Homo sapiens: one gene and its partners. The protein of the gene in region 1 purifies or fractionates together with the protein of each later gene. This does not show direct contact. Each region holds a gene or a part of one and is shown in the gene's direction. Other genes may lie near its edges.

Region 1 (3,500 bases):
GATCTGCCTGCGTCTGTCTCCCAAAGTGCTAGTTGCTAGGATTACAGGTGTGAGCCGCTGGGTCTGGCATAAGAGTTAAAGTTTGTTAATCTTATGCCTAATTGAAAAGTAGAAGACACCAATAGAACAATATTTAAGAACTTTTAATCTGGGTTTTGTTTTGTAGAGGTAAATGTGTTTCGATTGGAAATGGAGGGCATTACAGTTAAAGGAAAAGGTTGCCCCAAACCAATTAAATCCTGGGTCCAGTGTGGAATTTCCATGAAGATCTTAAATTCCCTCAAGAAGTAAGTGGTTGGTGGTTGTTTATGTTTTCCGTGTCTTGCTGCTCAAAATAGTCCTTCCACACCAGTGTCTCCCTGAGTTACATTTTTACTCTAAAAAAACCCTTACGTTTTAAAAAACTTTCATTGAGATAATTTATATATCAAAATTTACCCTTTAAATTATACAACTGGTTTTTTTTTGTTTTGTTTTGTTTTGTTTTTTGAGACAGAGTCTTGCTCTGTTGCCCAGGGTGGAGTGCAGTGGTGCAATCTCACTGCGCTCACTGTGACCTCGGCCTCCCGGGCTCAAGCAGTTCTCCTGCCTCAGCCTTCCGAGTAGCTGAAACTATAGGTGTGTGCCACCATAGCTGGTTATTTTTATTTTTAGTAGAGACAGGGTTTCACCATGTTGGTCAGGCTGGCGTTGAACTCCTGACCTCAGGTGATCCGCCCGCCTCAGCCTCCCAAAGTGCTGGGATGACAGGCGTGAGCCTCCATGCCCGGCCTTTTTTTTTTTTTTTTGAGACGGAGTTTCACTCTCGTTGCCCAGGCTGGAGTGCTGTGGCTCGATCTTGGCTCACTGCAACCTCCGCCTCTTGGGTTCAAGTGATACTTTTGCCTCAGCCTCCCAAGTAGGTGGGATTACAGGCATGTGCCACCATGCCTGGCTAATTTTGTATTTTTAGTAGAGACAGGGTTTCTCCATGTTGGTGAGGGTGGTCTCGAACTCTCTACCTCAGATGATCCACCCGCTGCGGCCTCTGAAAGTACTGGGATTACAGGCGTGAGCCACCAAGGCCGGCCTTTTTTTTTTTTTTTTTTAAGAGATGGGGTGTCGCTATGTTGACCAGGCTGGTCTCCAACTCCTGGCCCCAAATGATTCTCCCATCTCAGCCTCCCAGAATGCTGGGATTTCAGTCATGAACCACTGCGCCCTGCCTAATTTTTAAATTTTTCATTATCCCAAAAAGAAACTTTTGTCCATTAGTAGTCAGTCTTCTCCCCTCTCCCCACCCCTGGGCAACCATTAATCTATTTTTTGTCTCTAGAATAGATTTGGCTATTCCTAACATTTCATGTAAATGGGATCAAACAATATATAGTCTTTACTGCCTGATCTTTTTCACTTTACATAATGTTGTAAAGATTAGTCCATATTGTAGAATGTGTTAGTACTTCATTCCTTTTTATTGCCAAATAGTATTTTATTGTATGATATATACCACCTTTTGGAAGTTCATTTTTATGGGAACACATAGGACCTGTCTGGGGCCCAGCAATCTCAATTCTTACCTTTTCTTCCTTTGGTTTTCTTTTTAAGGCATGGCTATGAAAAGCCCACGCCCATCCAAACCCAAGCTATTCCTGCTATAATGTCTGGACGAGATTTGATTGGCATTGCCAAAACAGGAAGTGGAAAGACCATTGCTTTTCTGTTGCCCATGTTTAGACACATCATGGATCAGAGGTCATTAGAGGAAGGAGAGGGGCCAATAGGTACAATTCTTTTCATTAAACTATTTTTCAAATAACAGCTTTGTTGTCAAACAGAAAGACCTTATAGTTTATAATGTTCTTAATTATGACAATGAAGTTGTCTTTATGTACATTTTCTTTATCAATTTGGCACTTTGGGGCTGATTTCCCCTTACCAGCAGGTGGAGTGAGAATCTTCAGAGCTCTGGAGTGACATCTCAGAAGTACAAAAACAGCCTCTCCTGGCACAGCTCAGTTTTTAAACTCTGACTTGGCAGGTAGACTCCTCGTGCATCTATCTGTTTATTTATATTGAGGTTTGTTAGCCCAGTATCAGTGGATATATAAAAGCGACATGGAAGATATCCTAGGGAAACATATTTTCCTAGGTAGTTTTTGGCCTTAACAGGCTATAATGCCAGCATTTCATTCAAGATTACTTGTTTAGATTCTGGTTTCTTGATTCATCTTGGCAGAGATAACTCTTGGAAAGTTGAGTAGGGTTTTGGAAAGTTGTTCAGCTTCTCTCTTAGGAACACGGGGCATAGTATATCTCTCCTCTGTCTGTGCCCCTCAGACCAAGGTTGTTTCTGGAAGCAGCAGTATGGCTTCTGTGGCACAGTGAGTCACTTGATTTTCTTTGTTCTGTGATTTGCATTAGAAAACTGTTTGCATTCTTTTGAACCAAGTATTTTCCTGAGGGTTGGATGAGGCATTTAACTGTCATTTATCTTCTTTTAGCATGTTTTTAAAAATCTGCTTATATTTATCCTTCCCCACAACCTCTGCTGTTATACAACTTTTGAAATAGTTTTCAGGGATGCATAACAAAACAAAAATTAGGTGAAACAATCTGAACTTTATTGTAAAGGTTAAATTGAACACTATAAAGCACAGCCTTAAGAATTTTGGTGGTTAGGCTACTGATGTATTTATCTTTCCAGCTGTCATCATGACTCCAACTCGAGAACTGGCTTTACAGATTACTAAAGAGTGTAAGAAGTTTTCCAAGACTTTGGGACTTAGAGTGGTCTGTGTTTACGGAGGAACAGGAATCAGTGAGCAGGTAGTTATATAAGAAACATTCATGTTTTCCATTCTTTTCTCAAGTTGGATGATTCAATAAAGTAAAAGTGACTTTTACTTTTAGTTTTTTGAATAGTGATTGCTTCTAAAATCATTTAAAAAATGAAGTATAAAAATAATAGTAAGAATTAGTTATTTTATGTAGGATGAATACCTTTGGAGATGTAATGTACAGCATGGTGACTAGTTAATGTTATATTGTGTGCTGAAAATTCGCTAAGCCAGTAGATCTCACATCATGTTTTTTTTTTTTCTTTTTTGAGATGGAGTCTCGCTCTGTCACACAGGCTGGAGTACAGTGGCGCGATCTCGGCTCACTGCAACCTCTGCCTCCCTGGTTCAAGCGATTCTCCTACCTCAGCCTCCCAAGTTGCTGGGACTACAGGTGCCTGCCACCACGCCTGGCTAATTTTTGTATTTTTAGTAGAGACGGGGTTTCACCATATTGGCCAGATTGGTCTTGAACACCTGACCTCAGGTGATCCTCCTGCCTCGGCCTCCCAAAGTGTTGGGATTACAGGTGTGAGCCACCGTGCCTGACCAATCTTACATGTTCTTACCACAAAAGAAAATATTGGTAACTATATGAGGTGATATGTTAGCTTGATTGTGTTCATCATTTCAGAGTGTATATGTATATCAAACATGTTGTACACCTTAAATATATATAAT
Region 2 (3,500 bases), on another chromosome or scaffold:
AGAAGCAGGGTCCACATTACTGCTGGAGGTTTAGGTCTTAATGTCAAAGGTCTGGTTTAATGTGTTCAATTCCTTTTGCACACATGCTTTTGTGTGCACGCACACACACACACACACACACACACACACACACACACACACACACTCTCACCCCTACAGTCTTAATAGGTCTTATGAATCAGTTGTATGGATTAAATAGAACTTCCAACTGAAAAACGCTAAGGCATATAGGTCTCTTCCTGTCCAACGTTGTCAGATGTGCTCTGAAATGACTGTTTTCATCATCTATTCTGAGCCATAACCACCCCAGAAATAGCTTTAGCAGGAAAGTGCTTTTGTTAGACTAGCTGTAAATTATATTTCAAATGTCTGATGTTGTTTTCTTAAAAAATAAATAAATAAGTAAATGAAAGTCTAAAATTAATGACTGCTGGGGTTTGCTTTGCTTATGTGTACTGCTACAGATTTGGCTTCTTGCAGATGGAATTTCAGATCTGTTTACACTTCTGTGTTAGCTTTTGGGGGGAAGAAAAGCAGTTGAGAGATCTGGGAGGACAAATTTACAAAGTCGAACTTATTATAACCATTGGTGAGGCTCTCTTCTCTCTCTCTACTGCCCTTTCCCTCCCTCCTTTCCATCTTGCCCCCATTTTATTTGTTGTGGTTTTTATCTGCCCTGCTTCAAAGTTAGAGGCGACTGGTCCTTGCAGATGTGACGACAAGGTCACATATCCAGTTTCGCAAGCAGATGTTCATTCAGCCCTATTTCACCAGCACTTTGTCATTTGGTGAGAGCAGACCTCATGGGAACAGACTGGAGCAACACAAAGGATGGAACATAAAAAAATCTTGCAGAGAACCTGATTGCTTTTATGTATTCAGGAAGAAGGGGATGGGGGTAGGGAGGGTGGCAAGGAGAGAAATGTGCAGAGCAGAATTTCATGAGGTTTTTTTTTTTTTTCTGGTTTATTCAAAGATTATTATGTGTTGGATACAGTAAATCATCTATACACCCACTTCCAGGAGGTAAATCTTCAGAACTCCATGTGTGGGTAGCTCTGCATTTAACAGCTGCCATACAGTAGCTATTTTGTTCTGCACTTAGAGACCCTTATCTGTGCATTTGTTTTAAGTTATTGTCAACTCTCCTGTTGTTCCTCTATTGTTGTTCTCCTGGTTCTCATTACTATTACAAGGGTAGCTAAAAATCTGAACTACTGAGTGATTTAAACTGACACCATGAGTTGTAACGGTAGATGAGGGGCTGTCATCTTGGTTGTGGACTCAGCATCTACTCTGAGGGTGATTGCCTATAATGGAATTAGCTCCTCTTGCCTTTTCCTAGGTCTCATATGCCCGTCCGAGCTCTGCCTCAATCAGGGATGCTAACCTCTATGTTAGCGGCCTTCCCAAAACCATGACCCAGAAGGAACTGGAGCAACTTTTCTCGCAATACGGCCGTATCATCACCTCACGAATCCTGGTTGATCAAGTCACAGGTTAAGTGTTTCTTTGTAATTTCTTTCCTTGTATATCAATGTCATCAGCCCTGTTACTCATAAGAGCAGAAGGCTGATGGCTGCTTAAAGCAGATGATATGGATCATGAATAGACAGATTTTTGACTTGGAAGAAAGACTTCTTATCGGTCAACTGCCCAAATTTAAAATGGGCCATCTTGGGAGGTAGGAGTTCTCCATCATGGGACTTGTTTTAGCAGCAGCTAAACTACTTGCCAGGGTTGTAAAAAGGATTCAGGCATCAGGCTGAGAGTGGAACTGTATGACCTTCAAAGTCTGATTCAGCCCTCAACCAAATAACATTACTTTTGTATGTGAAAAGAACCTGTATGCATAGCTGTAACTCCAATTCATAGCATTATAGAGTTAGAAGGAATTGTCCCATTTCACACTTGAGGAAACAGGTTGAAAGTGGGGGATCTGACTCCCCAAAGCTAGTTAGTAGCAGTACAAGGATCTGAACCGAGGATCTGGTACTGGTGTTCTTTGTCCATAATAAAGAAAGGCAGCCACCACCTCTCAGTAAGAAATGTCAGGTACTCTGGGTTGCACTTTTAATGACAAGGTGTTTTCGCCTACCTCCAATTTGATTCCAATTTAGAACTCACCCCCTGAGAATAGTTTAGCACGTTTATCATGTGATTCATGAGACAAACCTTCACAGAAGTCTGCTCTGCCCTAGACATTGTGCAGAGGGACCCTGGAGACCAAGAAAGAAGCAGGCACTGCCCCACCCTTACAGGACTCCAGTGTGGAGTCCAAATACTTGCTAGAAGCTGTCAAGTGCCCCTGAGAGCTCAGGAGAAGGTGTGCCATGCCTGGTGGGAATTGCTAGGAGGGCCCCATTGAGGAGGCAATGTTTGAATAGGAGTTTGGAGGATGTTTCAGAGGTATCCAGCAAAAAGGAGGGACAGAGCAGTGTAAGTGGAGAGGAGAGCATATCCCAAGGCATGGAATCGAGGAAGAACAGTCTATTCGAGGAGGATCAGGCAGTTCAGGGTGGCTGGTGTGAGCCTCAATAGGGAATTTGGGGCCAGATTGCCAGAGGCATTGAATGCTGTGCCAAGAAGTCTGGACTTTATCTGGGTGCAGAATGGAGCCATGGAAGGGTATTTTGTAGGTTTTGTTTGTTTGTTATTCATTTTAGAATGGGAGTCAGTGAAGAATAGGTACTATGCACAAGGTACAAAATTCAAAAAGTACAAAAGAGATACAGAAGATGTTTTTAAAGCATATCATGTGGTCAGAGTTCACTTTTCAAATAGATTGCACACTAGCTACATGTGGAGGACACATGAGAAGACTAGAAACTGGACAGTGAGTGATCAGTTATAGTAACTTTTGGGAGGTGATGATGGGGCAGAGCAGTGATAGAGGACTAGAGGGGCCAGATGCAAGAGAGCCCTGTGTTCTGTGGCTGGGAGGCATCAGTCCAGAGCCATGATAGCAGGAATGCAGGTAAACGTGTTTTGATTGGTGAGAGAGATCAGGGAGCTGGGCTCAGCCCTGGCACCACAGGTGGGCTTACTCCTCACACAATATCCACAGGACCCATCTCTTCCCAAAGATGTTTACCAGTTTGGTGTGTTCACTCTTTACAAAGGCTCTTTCTCTTTCCCCAGGAGTGTCCAGAGGGGTGGGATTCATCCGCTTTGATAAGAGGATTGAGGCAGAAGAAGCCATCAAAGGGCTGAATGGCCAGAAGCCCAGCGGTGCTACGGAACCGATTACTGTGAAGTTTGCCAACAACCCCAGCCAGAAGTCCAGCCAGGCCCTGCTCTCCCAGCTCTACCAGTCCCCCAACCGGCGCTACCCAGGTCCACTTCACCACCAGGCTCAGAGGTTCAGGTAGGCATGCCCAAAGAGGAAGAAGCCCTGCTACAGGGGTTCATAGCTGGGCAAGAGCCAGGGAAGCCCATGGTCCTGACAAATGGGGCAAGGGTAAAAGCTTCCACCCCCAGGAATCACTGTGCAAAACTCC
Region 3 (3,047 bases), on another chromosome or scaffold:
AGCAAAACTTAGTATTGATAAAACTATCAGGTCGGTCATTTAGGATTGACTTTCTGTCACATGACTAGAGAAGCAAGTTCAATGAATATTAGATTTGGCCAAACCCTGTTTCTTGTACCGTTACGTTTGTGTAACTTTATGAGAATCCAGAGGCCAAAGTAAAGAAAATGGCCTGATACTAAATAAGAGCTAAATGTGGATTTAAAGAAACACTGTCAGCCTGATTAAAACAAAGGTCCGATTATGACATTTCATTACTATAATTTAGTGGTAAACGTCCTTTGGCTCTAAGGCTTTCTCCTGAAAAGCTGTCATTTGTTTGTCAAGATACTTAAAATAATAACTCTTTGTTTTTACAGACCTTGGGTTTATTCTAAACCACTTAGAAAAATGTGTCAGAGTGCTTCAAGCCCACAGATATGAAATGCCCAATTTCTCTTGGCCCTTGCCTGTTGGACATCTCCAAAGAGACTGGCTTAGTTGCTGTCGCTACAATGTGCTAATTGGCGCAGCACCTGCAATCAATTAGGGAAGCTTCAATTATCCAAACCAAAGCCACCCACCCAAAGATTAATTTTCTGCTCTATTTCCTATCAAAAACATAGCATATTTAGCTCTGAGTCTAGTCCTTTGGTGGAGTGCATTTTAGACATATAAACTACATCGTTTTCTTAATTGTACTTGTTCCTTCAATTCAGCAGCTTTCCCCTCGTGATATCACGCCCACCAGTTCTTTCAAAATTGTTCTTTTTTTGTTGTTGTTTTCTTGTCTTTCCAAAATGCTGAGATCACAGAGAAGAGATGTTAGTTGGGGAGCTTTTCTTTTGAAGTATGGATTTCTTTATTCTTTTGAAAATACCCAATCTCTTTTGCATTATAGGATCTAACTTCCACAACCTAAAAGCTTTGCATAATAGCGTATCTGAATTTAACAGCACTCATAAATACTGTTTTCTAATTGTCCCATGTCATTGGCCCATGTAAATACAAATATTTCTCTCTCCCCGCCCCCCTTCTAAAGAATGATTTTTCTCTTATGTTTCTCAGAGAAGGAACAAGCTATAAATCGGGCTGGAATTGTTCAAGAGGATGTGCAGCCACCAGGTAAACTGAAAAAAAAAAATCAAAACCAAATCTTATTTGTACTACTGTGTTGTGCGGGTTTGTGTGTGTTTGCCTTGGCGTGGAGAGTGGGAAAATGCCTTTTAGCTTAGAGACAAGATTGTGATTTTGCTATTTATTTCTCAACAGTTGCCATTTATAGATGCCACCCAAGGCGTCATTCTAATATTTCACTCCAGAATACTTTTTGCACGTTTGCCAGGTTCCTCTTTTCCATTTTATAAGTGGGCATAAAAATGTTAACAAGTGCGTGATTCGATATGAGACGTGAATAGCTGTTTGGCAGACTTATTTACCAAGCACCTATTTAAACACTCCCCTCATGGGAAAATAGTGTTTACTTGTTAGCTGTTTGAATTGATGTGGGGTTCTGCTTTGCACAAGGGCTAAAAAGCTCCCTTTATGGCTGAATGGTTAGTTCCTTTCAGAGGATCCAAGTTAGCCAGGAATGAGAGGTTTCTCATTTATTAACCAAAGCTCTTATAATCTGTGGCAACATTCTTTTTTATTTATTTATTTTTTAACTAGGCCAGATGTCGGTCTTCCTGCTATGGGGTACAATTCCTGAGCCATTTAAAAGTCCCTTATGGCAGCCATGGCTTCCTGGCCATTTAATGCCAAGGTTCCGGCAGCCTGCTCACACCATCTCAAACTACACTGTAAATTGCACAGCTCAGTTCTGATGTCATTTTGTTTGTTTGGGGTGGAGGAAAGTGGAAGGACATTTAAAAATGAATCCTGTTTTTGTTCCTGTTTCTTTCCATAGGGTTAAAAGTGTGGTCTGATCCATTTGGCAGGAAATGAGAGGGCTGTCATCAGCTCTGATTAAGAAAGGAGATTTCTTCATGCTTTCGATTCTGCATGGGGTACAGCCAGTCACCTCACCAGAGAATGACGGCTGGAGAAGAAAACTCTGTAATACCATAAATAAGAGTGCTTGTAATAAAAGACTGTGCACAAGGATTAATATTTCCCTTCTTAAGTATCAAAAGAACTCTGGAACAAATTATACCATTAGGAAGGTTTTCATGATTCAGTTGATTTTCCAAAAATGAAGCTATCTCACCCAGCTGGGTTTGGAGGAGCAATCTGCTTATTATTCTGTCGTTACCACTTACTCAAGCGAGCTGTGATATGAATACAAGCAACCAGTGGGCTCGGGAAGGTCCGGGTCTCTTCTGCCATCTTCCAGATAAGAGATTTCAGTAAAAAACTGCCATGCTGAGCTGCCTTATAGAGCTCTTCGAAAATGTTCGAGTTGATAAAGCTCTTTGAGGACAAGGTACTTCGTGCACCTCATGCTGAAGATTGCACCGTGTTGGAAAATAAATATGAAGCAAGTCAAACTAGATGCATACACTTGTGTAGAAATCAATAATCAATTAATAGAAGTGAAAAAATAGACATTAAAATGATTTATTTCTACTTTGCAGTGGTGTCTTTTTGTAAATCATCTTTTGTAAAGCAATTAAAATTATAGTGCCGAGAAGTACAATTTGACTACATTATATTTGACTAGGTATCTGTGTGCGATTCATCTGTTTGTACTCAGGTAAACGTTTTAGAGGTAAATAACAAATTTGTTGAGACAAATATTGAATGGTGATTCTCTACCAGGTACCTCACTAGGTGCTGCAAAGATGAAAGTGAGAAGACTAGTTGAGTATCCCTTATCCAGAAAAGCTTGGGAACAGAAGTGTTTTGGACTTGAGATTTTTTTGGATTTTGGAATATTTGCATATAAATGATGAGACATTTTGAGGATGGGACCCAAGTCTAAGCATGAAATTTATTTGTGTTTCATATACTTTATACACATAGCCTGAAGGCAATTTGATATAATGTTAAAATAATTTTGTACATGAAACAAACTTTTGACTAAAACCATCACATGAGGTCAGGTGTGGAATTTTCCACTTGTGTCA
Region 4 (3,500 bases), on another chromosome or scaffold:
ATCCTTTTAGAACTGAAAGCCATCCTAGAGATAATCTAGCCCAACTTAGGTTTTGTTCTGTTTTGTTTTTTGATTGAAAAAAAGTTAAGAACCAAAGTGACTTAAAATGTTTCAATCTCCAGATATTTACTGACAGAGGGGTAGGTTTTGTTTTGTTTTTTGATTGAAAAGAAGTTAAGAACCAAAGTGACTTAAAATGTTTCAATCTCCAGATATTTACCGTCGGAAGGGTAAAGCTAGAACCCAGTTCTCCTGGCCTCTCATTATGGTAACAAACAAGAACCTGAAAAATGACATACCCTTGATCCATTCAGTGAAGATTATTGTGTCACCAAGTTATCTTCACCAAGGGACAGTTGCCCTTACATCAATCTCAAGAGATTAAAAACCTCCAAAATGTTCCGTTTTCCGTGGATAACCTGTAATGGGTCAATGGAGTATATGGGGTTGAACCTTACAAAATTGCCAATACTTGATTAATAAAAATGATAGCTTATTATGATTCTTCCTAATTGTAAAAGATGTAAAAAAAAAAAAAAAAAAGGACAAATGTGAGACACTTTCAGTTACTCTGTACTTAACCATTTTATCTTTACCTGTTTTCATAGTAACATTTTCAGTTGTTGGTATCTTTTTGAAGTTCTTAAACTTACTCTCAGCAAATGTAACATAGTACTTCCATTTATTTGTTCTAAATTTAACTTTTTGGCTTCCTCCAGTTTTCTATTTGTAGTGTTCTAGAATTTGGGAATCTCTCACTTTATTTTTTTCATAGTTTTATAGACTGACAACCCTTTGGCCTTGTAGTGTTAAGTCTTAATCTTGCCGGGGATTTTTCAGTTCCCATCCTTGAAAAAATACATTTAATAGCGTGAATTCCAAATGTATATGCAGAGCTTTTATTTGGAAAAATTGACAAGCAATTTAGTGATTCCTGTAAATGTACCACATATTCATGAGTAGTTTATCAGGAAAAAAAAATGCAGCATTGGTCTTCACTACTAATGTCATCGTAATGGTGTATGATATATTGGGCTTTTTAGATGATGTATACAGCTTGATTTTTGCTCCTATAGATTCTAAATTAGGAAGAAATCAGGTCTTAAGAATGAACTAATTTAATATTTTGTTTGCTTATTCCATGCTCAAAGGACAAAGATTTGTTTGAAATTCCTGTTCAGATTGAAAGTACTGTCCAGTTGTATTGTGTTTAATGGTTTTAATTTTTCCTCATTTTTGGATAGTTTTATATAAGGTGTAGCTATTCTGAGGTTTGTATCATCAATCTAATACAGGTTTTCATTTCACCTGAGCCTGGCTTATGAGGTCAGGCCAAAATTTTTTCTGGCCCTTTTAAATATACCATTTGGTCTGTGATAATTTTATGTATGTGTATGTATTTATACGTGTCTGTATATACGCACATATATTTGAAGTGAGTTTCAAATCAGAAAAAGCTTTCAGAGTTGGTCGAGGCGATTTTTGTGCATACTTCAGGTCTTTGTTTAAAAAATTTTTTTAAAAGATTGATGTATTGTGAGGGAAAAAATTAGAAATAACAATTTCAGAGGTTTATTGACCCAAAATAGTTTTGGAATGTGTGATAAACCAGAAATGAATTAGCGTGGGTTGTTGAATTTCATATTCCTTCAAAAGGATTTTTCCGACCTAGTTTAGGTTTGCATGAAATGGATTAGAATTATCTTGCTGAAAAGATTTCTCCACAGTTAAAAAAAGGCCTTTTAATCAATTTACAGAATGACAGACTAAAAAAGTCACAAATTTAAAATATGTATTAATTATAAATTGGACATTACTTATTAGTTTTTTGACTCATTTCTGCTTTTGTTGAAATAGTTTCTTCTGGAAAGTTAATTTATGGAAAACAGACTTCTTACTGACACATTATTTAAACAGTTGGAGATACTGCCCTATTTATATTTACCAGAAATACTGTGTTACTAGAACTTTTTATCAGCATTGGAATTTTTGAAAAACATTTTCAATGGTAACACTAGAAATCTTAATGAAAATGGGGGATGATTAGAATTTAACATGTAGCTTTTAATACTCTGGAAAGCTGTACGTTTTTATTAAAATAGAAATTTCTGTAAAATTAAAGCTTTTAACATAAAGCTTTGATTTTGAACTATAAATATTCTGAGAGCTTTATGACAGTTATCCACACTATCAGGAGTATCCTAAAAATGAGACTATGCTACACTTACATATATTAACAAAAACCTCTTGGGTATGGTCTAAGCAATACCTTATAAACTGTGCTTTTTCTGAAAATTTTTAATTTTTTTTTCCTGATCGAAATCTACCATTCAGGTGTAAATATGTATTATATCTGGCTTTCACTAAAACTTTATTATTAAATTTATTTTCATTTTTTTCTTTTATTGAGATGGGGTCTCACTCTGTCACCTAGGCTGGAGTGCAGTGGCACGATCTCAGCTCACTGTAGCCTCTCCCTTCCTGGCTCAAGCCATTCTCCTATCTCAGCTTTCCAAGTAGCTGGAACTACAGGTGCATGCCACCACACCTGGCTAATTTAAGTAATTTTGGTGGAGACAGGGTTTTGCCATGTTGCCCACGCTGATCTCAAACCCCTGAGCTCAAGCAATCTGCCTGCGCCTGCCTCCCAAAGTGCTGGGTTTACAGGCATGAGCCACAGCACCTGGCCATTATTACTAAATTTAACTGAATATATTTAAATTTACATTCTGCTGATGGGCAAGTTTTACAATATTTTATGTCCTAATGAATAGACTTTTTCTTTATAATCATTTTTTTTTTGCATATTTCCCCTTCCAGAACCTTAGGTCTTTGTTGCAAATAATTGTGATTTTAAGCACCTCATATGTAATCTTATAAAGTACTTGAATGTTTACCTTGTGGAATCTTGTCTTTTTTCCCTAGGCTTTAATAGTAAGCATAAAAAATTCATGTTCTAAAGAATATTGAGAAATTTTAACACTGGAACATTTAAAGGAGTTAGGGGATTTAGATTTCTGAAACTTCTGTGACTGCTGTCTTGCAAGAGTTCCCATTATCTTCCCCCGTCGAAAATGCTTACCAATGGTTGGTTGTTGTTTTCTCTGGATAATTGTGCAGTACCTGATGGCAATGTATTCTTCATAACTGTTTGTTTATTTTTAAGGCCATGGTAGGGGAGGAGTGTGTAGGTGCCATCGTTTGCAAGTTGGATATGCACAAAAAGATGTTCCGCAGAGGTTATATAGCCATGTTAGCCGTGGATTCCAAATACAGGAGAAATGGCATTGGTAAGAAAAATATTATTTTATGGAAAGAATGCCTAAGCTATTTTCATTTTTGTTGTGTTTTGAAATAAAAGACTTAAATGTAAGTATGTAGAAATGAAAGAAACTAAGGGAAGAAAATTAAGGCGGGTTTTAATTTTTAATTTCAAAATGGTATTTTTAAAAAGTTCTTAAAATGAATTTTTTCTTTATTAATGTTTTGTTTGACAGTTT

The links. Proteins that work in one complex are often made in the same cells at the same time.
Region 2: the proteins of DDX46 (region 1) and ELAVL4 purify together in Homo sapiens (co-immunoprecipitation; one large-scale study listed by IntAct). This does not show direct contact.
Region 3: the proteins of DDX46 (region 1) and SMIM20 fractionate together in Homo sapiens (co-fractionation; one large-scale study listed by BioGRID). This does not show direct contact.
Region 4: the proteins of DDX46 (region 1) and NAA30 purify together in Homo sapiens (co-immunoprecipitation; one large-scale study listed by IntAct). This does not show direct contact.

What each region holds. Positions count from the first base shown.
Region 1 is NC_000005.10:134,782,779-134,786,278, forward strand, and holds part of DDX46 (probable ATP-dependent RNA helicase DDX46), read left to right. Parts: intron 1-166; coding exon 167-287; intron 288-1,587; coding exon 1,588-1,763; intron 1,764-2,686; coding exon 2,687-2,808; intron 2,809-3,500. UniProt on the Homo sapiens protein: Component of the 17S U2 SnRNP complex of the spliceosome, a large ribonucleoprotein complex that removes introns from transcribed pre-mRNAs.
Region 2 is NC_000001.11:50,192,420-50,195,919, forward strand, and holds part of ELAVL4 (ELAV-like protein 4), read left to right. Parts: intron 1-1,345; coding exon 1,346-1,499; intron 1,500-3,141; coding exon 3,142-3,367; intron 3,368-3,500. UniProt on the Homo sapiens protein: RNA-binding protein that is involved in the post-transcriptional regulation of mRNAs. Plays a role in the regulation of mRNA stability, alternative splicing and translation.
Region 3 is NC_000004.12:25,927,266-25,930,312, forward strand, and holds the end of SMIM20 (small integral membrane protein 20), read left to right. Parts: intron 1-1,047; coding exon 1,048-1,104; intron 1,105-1,888; coding exon 1,889-1,926; 3' UTR 1,927-2,547; downstream 2,548-3,047.
Region 4 is NC_000014.9:57,393,586-57,397,085, forward strand, and holds part of NAA30 (N-alpha-acetyltransferase 30), read left to right. Parts: intron 1-3,166; coding exon 3,167-3,290; intron 3,291-3,500. UniProt on the Homo sapiens protein: Catalytic subunit of the N-terminal acetyltransferase C (NatC) complex. Catalyzes acetylation of the N-terminal methionine residues of peptides beginning with Met-Leu-Ala and Met-Leu-Gly.